2 separate regions of the Homo sapiens genome follow, and region 1 is reported to be linked to region 2. Evidence: microRNA targets listed by miRTarBase, many of them from high-throughput screens and not tested one by one. Region 2 holds a microRNA gene; the other region holds the end of a gene's coding sequence.

Region 1 (7,099 bases), not on the chromosome of region 2:
CCACCCCACCCAGCTAATTTTTTTGTATTTTTAGCAGAGATGGGGTTTCACTGTGTTGGCCAGGATGGTCTCGATTTCCTGGACCTTGTGATCCGTCCGCCTCAGCCTCCCAAAGTGCTAGGATTACAGGCATGAGCCACTGCGCCCTGCTGAGACAGGGTCTTTTAATTTTTATTTATTTTATTATTCTGAGACAGGGTTTCCTTCTATTGCCCAGGCTGAAGTGCAGTGGCGTAATCATAGCTCACTGCAGCCTCAAATTCCCAGGTTCCAGTGATCCCCTTGCCTCAGCCTTCCAAGTAGCTGGGACCACAGGCATGCACCACTATGCCAGGCTAATTGTTTCATTTTTATGTTTTGCAGAGATGAGGGTCTCACTATGTTGCCCAGGCTGGTTTCAAACTCCTGGCCTCAAGCACTCCTCCTTCCTTGGCCTCCCAAAGGGCTTTAATTATAGGCGTGAACCACGGTGCCCAGCCTTTTCCTCTTTTTTTTTTTTTTTTGAGACGGTATCTCACTCTGTCACCTAGGCTGGAGTGCACTGGTGCAATCTAGGTTCACTGCAACCTCTGCCTCCCGGGTTCAAGCAATTCTCCTGCCTCCGCCTCCCGAGTAGCTGGCAGTACAGGTGCATGCCACCACACCTGGCTGATTTTTTTTTTGTATTTTAGTAGAGACGGGGTTTCACCGTGTTGCCCAGGCTGGTCTTGAACTCCTGAGCTCAGACAATCCGCCTGCCTCGGCCTCCCAAAGTGCTGAGATTACAGGCGTGAGCCACCGTGCCCGGCGCCTTTTCCTCTTCTTATAAAAGCTTCCAGTTCTACTCCTATGATAACCCGTTAAATCTATTAACCCACTAATCCATTAATCCATGAGTGAATGAATCTATTCATGAGGGCAGGGCCCTCATGACCCAATTACCTTTTAAAGGCCCTACCTCTCACTACTGCCACATTGGGGATTAAATTTCAACATGAGTTTTGGAGCGGACATTCAAACCAAAGAACCCATAGTCTTTGCTTCTTTATTAAGGAGCTGTCGCCATGTCAATAAATTTAGCTTTGAGGTTAGAACAAGCAAGTAGCTCCCTGTGGAGGAAACCATAAGAAAACTTCCATTTCCTCTTTGATTACGACTGAACTAGACTTAAGATCAGTCTCTGCGCCAGGCGCAGTGGTTCATGCCTGTAGTCCCAGCTACTCGGGAGGCTGAGACAAGAAGATCACTTCAGCCCAGGAGTTTGAGCCTGCAGTGAGCTATGATTGCGCCACTGCACTCCAGCCTGGGCAACAGAGTGAGACTCTGTCTCTAAAAAATAATAACAAATGAAAAGATCAGCGGTTGGAGTTTCTTTTTAATCCAGGCATTCTGTCAACATGCCAGTTCTGAATGGTCACTTTAAGGAAGTGCTGAGTCACCTATGTTTCCTAAGAAGGCAGCCTAGTAATGGAAAAAAAAAAAAAAAAGTGATGAAACCCAAGTTTTAGCCTCAAGTAATTACCTGAGAAAATGAGTCTAACTCATAAAATGAGACGGGAAATGCAGTTAAAATTCATAAAGCAAAAATAAGTTGTTGAAAAGTAGGTAAATTAAAAACTCAAGATACAAGGTTAGCAAAATTAACTTTATTATTATTTATTTGAAACGGGGTATTGCTCTGTTGTCCTGGCTGGAGTACAGTGGTGTGATCTTGGCTCACTGCAACTTCCGCCTCCTGGACTTAAGCGATCCTCTCACCTCAGCCTCCAGAAACTTTAAAACAAGTTCACACATACTGATTAATCTAAACTCACCCTCTCCATTTCTGCCTAATTATTCCCAATAAGGTATTACTAACAATTAAGATATTAGTAGCTGTGGCAGCCGGGCCCAGTGCTTATGCCTGTGATCCCAGCACTTTGGGAGGCCAAGGCAGGCAGATCACTGGAGGTTGGGAGTTTGAGACCAGCCTGACCAACGTGGTGAAACCCCGTCTCTACTAAAGTACAAAATTAGCCGGGTGTGGTAGCACGCACCTGTAATCCCAGCTACTTGGGAGGCTGAGGCAGAATCGCTTGAACCTGGGAGGAGGAGGTTGTGGTGAGCAGAGATTGCACCATTGCACTGCAGCCTGGGCAACAAGAGCGAAACTCCATCTTCCAAAAACAAACAAACAAACAAAAATATATATATATACACACACTATATATATATACACATATATATATATACACACACTATATATATACACACTATATATATACACTATATATATATACACTATATGTATATACACTATATATATATACACACTATATATATATATACACTATATATATATGTAGCTGTGATGGCTCCTTAGCATGAAAGTATGACCTTGAAATCTTAGACTTGTCATTTACATATTTAAACTCCATTATTCTTTTTTTCTTTTTTTAAGACAGGGTCTTGCTCTGTTGTCCAAGCTAGAGTGCAGTGGCTTGATCACAGCTCACTGTAGCCTTTAACCTCCTGGGTTCAAGCAATCCTCCCACCTCAGCCTCCAGAGTAGCTGGGACCACAGGTGCACATCACCATATGCCTAGCTAAATTTTTTAATTTTTGGTGGAGGCGAGGTCTCCCTATGTTGCCCAGGCTGGGATCCTGTTTTTCTTTTTCTTTTCTTTTGAGACAGTCTTGCTCTGTCACCTAGGCTGGAGTGCAGTGGTACAATTTCAGCTCACTGCAACCTCTGCCTCCTGGTTTCAAACGATTCTCATGCCTCAGCCTCTGGAGTAGCTGGGATTACAGGTGTGTACCACTATGCCCGACTAATTTTTGTATTTTTAGTAGAGACAGGGTTTCACCATGTTGGCCAGGCTGGTCTTGAACTCCCGGCCTCAAGTGATCCTCCCACCTCGGCCTCCCAAAGTGCTGGGATTATAGGCTTGAGTCACCGCCTCCGGTGGATCCTGTTTTCTTGACTGTATTTCAGGTTTATGCAGACCAGGTAGGTTTGTGTGTGTGAAACACCCATGAACAGTGCAGGTACAATGTGTTTAACAAAGGGTAGCTCTTACTAAAAAGGCAGCCCTGACCTTTACACAGACAGATGTTGATATTTTAGGGCAAAGAAACATTTGTGTGGTATCAAACAGTGGCTACCAACTCCAGCCCATGGATAACTGATAAAAGCTTTTAACAATTAGCCTCCAAAATAAGAAAAATATGAACAAAATAGTGAATTTTTCATAAAATTAACACTTTTCATACGCTTATTCAAACTGATGGCTATTTTTGTCCACTATTCCCATGTTCTTTTTCACTCTTCTGGTGTCAAACTGTCTTTTACGAAATACTGGTAATAAATTGTAGCTTTTTGATATACTCCTGCTTGGAAAAATCAAAAGTTGGCAATTGCATACTAGCCACCCCTATCCTGCTTTTAAAATGTTGCTAGTATGAAAACAACGACTGGGAACCAGTGTTCTAGAGAGGGAGACTTGTTAGAAATGAGAAAGGCCTTAGGAGACCCGCAGCTCTCTGGAAAACAGGCTTAAATAAATTGGAATCATCCCGGGGACACTTTCCAAAATTATCCATACTCAACCTCCTAAAAGTATTGAATTAGAAAACTGCTGTGCTACAGAAAAAATGAGGGATAAACCAAGAAGGAAGAGGATAGGAAATCCAGAAACAAGACGTCCAATACAGGAGGGTGGCAACAGAAAGTCCCGAGGACTGCAGTGTGCACCAGGTCTAGGCAACAACTAGGCAGGAGAGGTGTATGGGGAGAAGGTAAACTGGTCACTCCAGGAAGACACCACCTGTATATTAAAAGGGACGCAATCACAGTGCATTAACCTGTGCAGTGAGCAATAGTATTCTCCCAGGCAGTGTCCCAGCAAGCCAGATAGCACTCTTGAGAGGAAGCAGTAGCCCAGAGCCAGTAACAGAAATACCACCACCCCTGGGCCCAAAAGGGCAGGGTGAAGGACAGGTTAGGAAAAATAAAAGAAGTCAGGTGGAGTTGGCTGCCTGGAGTGTTCCTTGAGGCACAGTGACTTCTGGCTGAGGAACAGTTGGCCTGAGGTGACCTTGCAGAGAGAGGGCCAAGGGAATAAACACTCTGCCTTCATTCTCCTCCCTCCAGCCATCTCCTGCTATGGATCGCTATTGGCCAAACCCAGCAGAACCCAGAGACATGGGAAGTCTGTTGATGTCTATACAGCTTCCTTGGGCTGAAAGCAGGATGAGGGGAGCAGAGACTTGGGAGGGGCAAATGAAAGACACCTGGCACACTCATGCTATGAACACTGATGATGTAAGCAAAATTTACAAAAGCACTTGGGAGGATGTGTGGGAGGAGCAGAGGCAGTGTAAGATAGCGGCATCTCAACCATTATGGGAAACAATGTCTGAAGTTGATGGCTCAAAATATAACAGTATAGCCAGGCAGTGGCTCATGCCTGTAATCCCGACACTTTGGGAGGCTGAGGCAAGAGGATCACTTTGAGGCCAGGAGTTTGAGACTCGCTTGGGCAACAGAGCAAGACCCCGTCTCTACAAAAAATTAGCCAGGCGTGGTGGCACACACCTGTAGTCCTAGCAATTCAGGAGGCTGAGGTGGGAGGATCACTTGAGCCCAGGAGTTGGAGGCTGTAGTGAGCTATGATGATGCCGCTGCACTCCAGCACCTGGGTGACAGTGAGACCCTGTCTCAAAAAATAAAATGTTTATATTTTTATATTTTTATAATTTATTTATAAATATGGAGATAAATTTAAAAAGCCCACAGCTCAGTAGGTAAAACCTTTGAGGAGCAAAGAAGTAGGGACAATTAGAAACGTTGCAATATTACTTAATTTTTAAAAGATGATGTGTGGGCCAGGTGCAGTAGTAGCTCATGCCTGTAATCCCAGCACTTTGGGAAGCCAAAGTGGAGGATCGCTTGAGCCCAGGAGATCGAGATCAGCCCAGGCAACATGACGAAACCCTGTCTCTATAAAAAAAATTACAAAAAACATTAGCTGGGCATGGTGGTGTGCACCTGTAGTCCCAGCTACTTGAGAGGCTAAGGTGAGAGGATCACTTCAGGACTGCAGGTCGAGGCCATAGAGAGCCGTGATCATGCTGCTGCACTCCAGCTTGAGTGACAGAGTGAGACCCTGTCTCAAAAACATAAATAAATAAAAATGATGTGCATATTTAAGAACAAATTAATTTTCAAAAAGTTGCTAGAAGGTTACACACAAAATCAACTGGGGCGGACTCTGGATGCACTGCCTATGAATTAGCCTTGCTCCACAAGGAGCAGCACTGTTCAGGAAAAGACTACTGTCTAACAAAAACAAACCATACAACAACAACAACAAAAAAACAATTGGTTACCTCTGTGGAGCTGGAATAAGGGAATGAGAGTTGAGAAAAAACATTCGCTTTTCATTTAGGATCCTCTTGCATTGTTGTACTGTAAATATCTGTTATTTTTATAATAGTATTTATACCTTAAAAAAGTTTATTTGCTAATGAGAATTTATCTTATCCCTCAGGTGGCTTTGGACAGAAAAGCTGAGACCTGCTGATTTACATGATTTATATCAAATAAAGCCCAAGGTAAATCAGTGACTTGACCAGCCACAGAACTTAATAGAGCCTGAGTTAGGACCCAGACTTCATTAGGGACCCAAGGGCAGGAGTTCCTTTTAATCTTTCCCAGCTTCAGAGTGAATACAAAAAATATATAAGGATGCATCTCATCATCTTTGAATATTTATAGGTCCCTACACTGAATTTTCAAAGCCCAAGATAAAAATCACATAGCGGCCCAGGTCCAGACCCAGGCCCAGCCAGCCATATGAGTGAGCCCAGAACAGCAAAGAACTGCCCAGTCGAGTCACTGCTGCTGAAAACCACTAAATTTTGGAGTGTCTTGTTACGCAACAATAGTAATTGTTGTCCCACCACTACACAGATGCCATCACAACATCCAAATTCTGCCTTCTGACGTGGTGAAAAATTTCCCTTTTGAATATTTCAATAGACTTTAAAAGAAAATGAACTACCAGTTAAACTGAATGTTTAATACATTTGTAGGAACAGAAGAAATGCAGTAAGGATTAAAATTTTATAATTAGACATTAATGTAACAGATGTTTCATTTTTCAAAGAAGTTTCCCCCTTTTCCCTATCTTTTTTTAATCTTCCTTAGAGCAATAAATAGTAATTACTATATTTGTGGACAAGCTGCTCCACTGTGTTGGACAGTAATTATTAAATCTTTATGTTTCACATCATTATTACCTCCCAAAATTCTACCTTCATTTCCCTGCACAGTTTCACTGGACTGTTTCACAACAAAATTGTACTCCACTCAAATTAGAAGAGCCCAAAGAAATTAGAGCAAACAGCAAATTCATATGAATTAGAGAACCAAAGATTTTAAAGTGCTGATTTAGTAACATAATGTCTACTGGCACAAACCTTCTATTTAATCATATTATTCAAACAGCAATAACAGAAATGAAAGCTACATTAACGAAAAAGGAACTTAGGAATGAGGTCATTAAATATAACTAACTACATTTTAAATACGGATATCATATATTTCCTGATTAGTATCAGGTAAATATCTAGACTCCTATCCTGAATTCCGGTCTCAGATAAAAAGGTCAGAGACAATTACAAGGAAGATGCTTCATATTATCAGGTCCATTTTTTAAATGATGGGGTCCTTTAGGAAAATTTCTTTAGTCTTTCTTTTTATCACAGATTTCTGTTGGTCCTTTTGTTGGTAATCCATTCATGTCTGCACCCTAAAATGAAAAAACATTTTAGAAATTATCATAACAAGCCGGGTGCGGTGGCTTATGCCTGTAATCCCAGCACTTTGGGAGGCTGAGGCAGGCAGATCACGAGGTCAGAAGATCGAGACCATCCTGGCTGACATGGTGAAACCCCGTCCCTACTAAAAATACAAAAATTAGCTGGGTATGGTAGCATGTGCCTATAATCCCAGCTACTCAGGAGGCTGAGGCAGGAGAATCGTTTGAACCTGGGAGACGGAAGTTGTGGTGAGCCAAGATTATGCCACTGCACTCTAGCCTGGTGACAAAGCGAGACTTCATCACAAAAACAAAAA
Region 2 (7,168 bases):
CCTCTGTCCCTCCCTCCCTCCTTCCCTTGCTCTCCTTTCTTTTTTTTTTTTTTTTTAAACAGGGTCTCACTCTGTTGCTCAGGCTATAGTACAGTGGTGCTATCGCAGCTCACTGCAGCCTCGTTAATTTTTTATTTTTTGTAGAGACAGGGTCTCACTATGTTGCCCAAGCTGGTCTTGAACTCCTGGGCTCAAGCGATCCTCCTGCCTCAGCCTCCCGAAGTGCTAGGATTATGGGCTTGAGCCACCATGCCCAGCGTGATTGGTGTTTCTGAAAGAACACCCTGGCTGCCATGTGGAAATCAAACTGGTGGCAGGTAGGGGTGGATCAAAGAGAGGAAGCTGACAGACCAGGTAGGAGGCTGCAGTAGTCATGCAGGGAAGCTATGAAGGTGGTTTGGACTAGTATGGTCATAGGGGAGTCATACAGAAGTGGATCACTCAGAAAATGCTCTGGAATTGTAGCCGATGGGACTGGCTGAGATGAATGAAGGGTGGGAGAAAGAGGCACCAATGGTGAGTCCTGTATTTTTGCCTTGAAAACTTGGGTAGGTGGCTGGGCAGTGGCTCACAGCTGTAATCCCAGCACTTTGGAAGACTGAGGTGGGTGGATCACTTGAGGTCAGGAGTTTGAGACCAACCTGACCAACATGGTGAAACCCCATCTCTACTAAAAATACAAAAATTAGCCGGGTGTGGTGGCCTCTGCCTATAATCCCAGCTACTCAGGAGGCTGAGGCAGGAGGATCACTTGAACCTGGGAGGCAGAGGTTGCAGTGAGCCAAGATTACGCCACTGCACTCCAGCTTGGGCAACAGAGAGAGAAAACCTGGGTGGATGAGAGGATCATTTTTCTGAGATGCAGAAGACTGAGGCAGAAACAGATGTGAATGGGGATTATCAAGGGCCCAGGTATAGCTATTTGAGTGTATGATGTCTCCTGGAACTCAGGCTATCATTTAAGCCTAACGCTAGGCTCTCTGCACCCTATAATCTTAGTAGGATTGGGCCAGGCGCAGTGGCTCAAGCCTGTAATCCCAGCACTTTGGGAGGCCGAGGTGGGCAGATCACGAGGTCAGGAGATCCAGACCATCCTGGCTAACACAGTGAAACCTCATCTCTACTAAAAATATTAAAAAAAAAATTAGCCCGGCATGGTGGTGGGCACCTGTAGTCCCAGCTACTTGGGAGGCTGAGGCAGGAGAATGGCATGAACCTGGGAGGCAGAGCTTGCAGTGAGCAGACATCACGCCACTGCACTCCAGCCTGGGCAACAGAGCAAGACTCCGTCTCAAAAAAAACAAAACAAAACAAAACTTAGTAGAACTGGTAAATATTGGTTGTGTGAACAGTACATGCTGTCTTCAGGGGACAGACCTGGGTTAGGGGACCAGTGCCCTCACTAGTAATTATTCTGGGACTGCTGTGCCTCAATCTTCTACCTTAGCATTAGAATTAAATGTGATCTCATATTTATGCCACCTGGAACATGTATGAACGAAAACATCCCATCCCCTCTTCTGAGTTCCAGGCATTATGTGACATGTCTTGTGAGGTTGGCATCTTTTCCTCTCATCCACATTTTCTTTTTTGGCAGAGTCTTGCTCTGTTGCCCAGGCTGGAGAGCCACTGCGCCTTGCAACCTCCGCCTCCTGAGTTCAAGCTACTCTCCTGACTCAGCCTCCCAAGTAGCTGGGATTACAGGCATGCACCACCACACCTGGCTAATTTTTGTATTTTTAGTAGAGACAGGGTTTCACCATGTTGGCCAGGCTGGTCTCGAACTCCCGCCCTCAGGTGATCTGCCCGCCTCGGCCTCCCAAAGTGCTGGGATTACAAGCATGAGCCACTGTACCCCGCCACCCACATTTTCAAAGTCACTCCAGAACAGCCCTGCTCCTGACAGCACTGGGCGGCCATCCCCTCTCCCCTCCCTCAGCACTTCCACAGCCTCAAAGAAAACAGAATGGAGAACAACAGGCAGGTTGATTCATAGACTTTATCGGCTTCTTCTCCACCCAGCGGTTTCTGCAATGACAACCGCGCCTGTACAATACACATGGTTCACTCTGTTAAAGCTGCAGGGCAACGGGAGGGGGCTGGGGGTCCCTGGGCAGGCATCAAGGCTAGGGGTAAGCAGCAGCCAAGACTGGGCCAGTGGGTCCCAGTGTCCGACCCAGAGGGTGGTGGCAGCTGGAGTTCCAAGGCTGTTGGAAGGGGTCAGGAGGAAGGCTGGGAAGCCAGGGGCTGCAGGGAGAGGAGAGTGCATCAGCAGTAGCAGGGAGGGGGCAGGGAGCAGAAGGGGGCCCATGGGACACTGTCAGGGCAAGAGGGCATGGGACACAGCACCTCCTATGTCCATAGAGGATTTTTGCTGCAGGAACAAGACAGATCACTGTATAAAAGGGTCTGTACAACATTACCTATGATACAATGTTCACATATGATACAAGGCTCTTTCCCTCTTTGAGTTTTAAAAAATAAATGTACAATTCCAGAGCTTTGGGTAAAAAATATATACACCCTCATAGCAGGAGCAGCAGCTGCTTTTGCTACGGCTGTTGCTGTCTCTTCAAAAGGGAAAGAGGTGGTGCCAGAAAGAAGGGTGAGTCTGTGCCAGGAAACCTCACCCAGTAGCTGCCAGGAGCCCCTGCACCCCTCAGGCCTTGAGGCTGGTGATGGGAGAGGGAGGGGAGTAAAGGTAATAAAGGCCTTGCCAGAGTCCAGTGGCGCCTTTACAGTCTCTGCCATCCCCCTCCCCCACTTTGGGGCTGCCTGCCCCAGGTATAGGGATCCACCCCACCCCAGCTCTATGGGGAGGACAAAGGGAGAGTCAAAGAGAGAGGGACAGAGACCATGTTGTTGGTGTCAGACACATGAGCCAGAAGGGGGATGTCAACTCCCTCCTTAGCAGTTAGATATCCCAAAAAGCAGGAGTGTGGGCAGCAGACAACCCTAGCTCCTGATACTGCTCTACCCGAGCCCACTGCAAGGCAGGGGGAGGGTCCTCTAGGCAGCTGAGGCCTGTGTTTCCCTGAGCATCTTTTACCCTCTCATCAGAGCCCATCCCTGGACCTTCCAGAGGCCTGAGTGGGGGACTTGCAAGGGCTGATGGGTAACCCCTCCCACCTGCTGCTACTCCCTGCCCCAAAAAGCAGCTTGGCTCACAAGCCTGGGCATGCAGGGCAGCACGAGGAGCTGAGCAGGGAGTGTGGGGGTGGAGAAAGCACCCCGCACCATCCAGGGGCAGAGTAGACAAGGGTAGCACCAAACAGAAGGACCCCTCCCCAGCACACACAACATCCACCCTCAATTACCAGATGCACTCCTGCTCCCTAAAAGAAGACACACACACACACACACACACACACACACACACACACACACACACACACACACACACGGCAACATAATATTCCTGGGGGTCCCAGCCCTGACCAGGAAGAAGCTGGACAGGTGGTGGAGAAGAAGGCTGCCAATCCCTCCCACAATCCCACTCTGCAAGACAGAAGGGTGAGCAGCATTCTTTCCTGCTGCAAGAGGAAGTTGGAAGCTCCATCCCCAGAACAGATCTCGATGGGAGGACATAGAGGAAGGAGCTTTCTATCCCCTTTCTCAGAGGGGACAGGAACCAGCAAAGTGTAGTTTTGGCTTGAAGGAGCAATGGGGAGGGGACTTCAGCAGGATGAACAGACTTATGGGTCCAGGGGTAAATCCATCGACCTCTTTCCCGTGGAGCAGGAAGTTGCTCCACGGGAAAGATGTCAGATGTTGGTTGAGACATCGTGCAAAGTGCTTGAGTGCCAGGTGCCCAAGGATCTGGCGGGTCTGACTGGAGCCTCCACTCTCACTGACTGTTTGCCTCCAGCTTGTAGGAGAGCTCGAAGAGGAGGTTCTGGTTGTCGATGACCTGAAACTGGCGCACATAGGCCTTGGTCTGCAGGTGATTGGGGGATGCCTCCATGTCCAGGCCTAGTGGGTAAAGAGGGAGAGGCAGTCAGGTTCCCAGCTTCCCTTCTTCCTCTACACACACACCGGGCAGAAGATCAGGCTGTGGACTGAGACAGATGTTGGGCAGGAAGGCCTCTGCAGAGGCAAGGAGAGAATGGGGAACCAGCAAGTGTATGGAAATACACATCTGGACAGGGAGTTCTCCCCTGAACCCTCCCGTTCAGTCAAAGCTCTATCTGTACTGCTCTCAGTACCCTGGGTACTCACAAAGGGGCCGGCTCCGGTATTTGCGGATTGTCCTCACTTTTTCGGCCACTGAATGCTGGGAGATGACAAGGAATGAGCCTTGAAAGGGGCACAGAAAGAGGCTCCCCCTCTTATGCTCCCCCTCCGCCATTCTCCCACTCTGCTTTACTCCCTCCAGTCTCCAATTCTGGAGGGTCTCTGAAGGACCAAAGGAGTGGGTGTAACAGAGTGCCATGTGAGGGGGAGGTGAAGTTGCCCCCAAGCTGCCTGTCAGCTCTGCCACCTGTGGGTGGGTTGCCACAGTGATGCCACCAGGGAGACAGTCAAGAGTCTGTTAGGCAAGCTGGGCACTTGGAGGAAGGCTGCTATTTTTGGGAGGTGATGAGAGAGGGAGAGGATGCAAGCCCCCCACTTGTGGGACTAGGGGTTTGCAGTGCCACTCACTCACCAGCTTCTCGATGTTCACCAAACCATCTACAAGGGTCTTACTCCCTTCGTGCAGGAAAGTCAGGTCTAGGGGATGTGGAGAGAATCCAATGTGAGGAAAGGATAAGAGAGGAGTTCGAAAGGGGCCACTGCACCCGAGGACCCCGCTCTTCCCCAGAACCCACTCCGTCTGTGGTGGGGGGCTCCTCTCCAGGTGGGTACTCAGGGCTGAGTCGAGAGGGAGCTGGAAGTCAGAAGCAGGGCATAGGAGAAGGGAAGCATGGGTGGAAGCGGCACAGCTTGGGAGTAACTCTCTCACCTTTGAGGATCAGAGGCACGAAGGGAATCACAGGGGGCTTCATTTTGGAGATCACTTCTCGGTAGCTTTTGTGGTTCCTGCAGGGGTCCTAGTATTCCACAGGAGAGAGATCAAGGGACAGACTGGCCAATGCATCCCAAAGATGTCCTCAGCTTCCTCCCTCACCCCCTGCCTTGTATACATTCCTGATCAGATAGGGGTGCTGGGGGCTTTCTAATGGTGTGGTGGGGAGGGACCTGACTACTCCCCCTTTCCTTCAAGAAAAACAGGGGCGCAATCCTTCCAACCTCACCCTCCAGCATGGTAAGGAGGGTGGGGGGTCCCATACACTAAACACCTTGAAAGGAAAGCTTGAGGAAGGGGGTTTATGGGAACAGAGGGTTTCTGGGCTCTCAGTCCAAGAGCAGAAGAAAGAGCCAAACCCACTCACCGTCAGGTTCTCAAATTTGCGAAACAAGTTCTTGAATTTCCCTGGCAGCTTCTGCAGAGTTTGAAGGAAGGAGAAGGGATATCAGAGTGGAGCTCCTTGGGTTACATGGGAGCCTCGGATTAATTCTCCCTGTTGGAGGGCAAAAGGGCCTGCATGGCTTGTAGGGGGCTGGGAAGCTGGTGGGTGGGGAAATGAAGTCAGGCCTTGGCTAAGTCTAGAGGCTTGAAACAGCCCAGAGGAATTCATTATTCTGGGGAAGGCCAGGTCTGTCTTATGCAGGTGCTTTGTATAAAGATGCCCCCACTGAGTGTGGATGAAAATCAGCCCAACTCCCACAGCCAAGTCTGCGACCTGACCTGGCCAAGGGCTGCCTGCCGTGACTCAGGCGGGATCCGGGCTTTTCACTAATTTGCACAAAGACAGGGTCCATTAGCCAAGCTGTGCGCCCTGGGGTTGCGTATGCCAGAAGAGGGCGCCTCCCTCCAACTGGCGCAAAGACTCCCTCCAGGCCGGCGGCCGTCCCGGGAGGACGCACTTCGGGGAGCCCGGGATGCCCAGATTCCCAGGTAGGAACGGGAGGGGTCTCATCACCTCCCAGGTGAGTCGAAGGCGGCTGACAGCGGCGTTGTCCAGCCCCATGACCACGGCGTAGAAAGACAGCAGGTCCTGGTTCTGCTTGCAGCTGCGGGGGTGGGAGGCGGGGTCAGGGGCGGGCGGCGGCGCGGGCCTCCGGCCTCCGGCCCCCCATCCCGCCGACGGCCGCACTCACAGGGCCGCGATCTTGATGAACTTCTTGAGCAGCTGCGCGCGCTTGCCCGGGGCCTCGCAGAGCAGCACTTCGGTGGCCACCCAGTGCGTGACCTCGCTGCAGCGCTGCAGCAGCAGCTCCAAGTTGGCCGTCTCCCGGCGGCCGCGCTCCCCGTGGAACACGTAGTCCACGAACTCCAGCTGCACCCACGGCAGCGGAGGGGCGGCCAGGGCGCCAGGGGGTGAGGGGAGTGGGTGGGAAGATGGCAGTGCAAGGCGATGAGGAGCGAAAGGCAGGAGGGCGGGGGCGGAAGGGGTGGAAAATAGAAAAATAGAAAGGACAGGAGGCGGCAAAGATGCGGAAAAAGAAAACAACCAGCATTAATAATATTTCACCAGCTACTGAGCACTTACTAGGTGCCAGGCATTCGCTCACGGCTGACATCCTCAAGACAACCATCTGCTAGGCATTATTGTCTCTGCCTTATTTTATTTCTTTAATAGTGAATATTTTAAAAATAGAAATCCTGGGTCAGGTTCTGTGTAAACAGCACTTGGGCCCTGAGCCACTGTGCTCTGGGGTCTCTCTCTTTGCGATTTTTTTCAGATGGGGGAACAAAGGTTACGGCCATGCGTTGCCCAAGGGCTTGCTGCAAGTGAGCCTTGGAACCAGGACGTTGTGCTGCGAACACCGTCTCCCAATGGCACATTTCTCCCTCCAGCCCCCCAGCATAGCACCAGCCTCGGTCCCCACCTCATGCACACATCGGAACAGCTCCCAGTGGAAGGCAGTTAGGTGGTTGGCAACGTCCTCAGGCTCCACTCGGTGGATCTCTGTGTCTCCAGGGGAGACCTGGATCTCCTCGGGGAGGGGCACCTGGTGGCAGGCAGGGGCATAGGGGCTGGGCTCCTGGTGGCAGGGTGAGGGATTGCTCACAGCCCTCCTCAGCCCTCCATTCCAGTCAAGGCCTTGGGAAGTTCTTACCAGAGCCTCATAGCTGTCCCGAGTACAGGCAAACAGGTGGCTGTTGATGCCCAGTGCGGTGAAA

Evidence for each region. Region 2 holds the annotated microRNA hsa-miR-6867-3p (CUCUCCCUCUUUACCCACUAG, at 3,973-3,993, opposite strand). A microRNA usually pairs through its seed, bases 2 to 8, with sites in the 3' UTR of a target mRNA and lowers its output. Matches are read on the target gene's strand: a 7mer-m8 pairs with bases 2 to 8, a 7mer-A1 pairs with bases 2 to 7 and ends in A, and an 8mer does both.
Region 1: the mRNA of C18orf32 is a reported target of hsa-miR-6867-3p. Seed matches in the 3' UTR shown: 7mer-A1 at 3,843-3,849 and 7mer-m8 at 2,596-2,602.

What each region holds. Positions count from the first base shown.
Region 1 is chr18:49,475,638-49,482,736 of GRCh38, forward strand. C18orf32 (chromosome 18 open reading frame 32) reads right to left here. Exons shown (of 3, transcript NM_001035005.4): 3 at 1,606-6,773. The coding sequence ends at 6,708. It overlaps RPL17-C18orf32 (RPL17-C18orf32 readthrough), which reads right to left. Exons shown (of 7, transcript NM_001199356.2): 7 at 5,541-6,773. Among named protein-coding and RNA genes, the nearest start is that of C18orf32, 8.0 kb to the right of the region's middle.
Region 2 is chr17:40,190,468-40,197,635 of GRCh38, reverse strand. It overlaps MIR6867 (microRNA 6867), which reads right to left and starts at 4,039; the gene lies at 3,973-4,039. RAPGEFL1 (Rap guanine nucleotide exchange factor like 1) reads right to left here. Exons shown (of 15, transcript NM_016339.6): 7 at 7,105-7,168; 8 at 6,874-6,996; 9 at 6,142-6,320; 10 at 5,964-6,054; 11 at 5,373-5,423; 12 at 4,943-5,030; 13 at 4,646-4,710; 14 at 4,219-4,273; 15 at 1,986-3,972. The coding sequence ends at 3,848. RefSeq lists enhancers at 3,019-3,068, 2,693-3,193, 5,895-5,974 and a silencer at 6,095-6,154.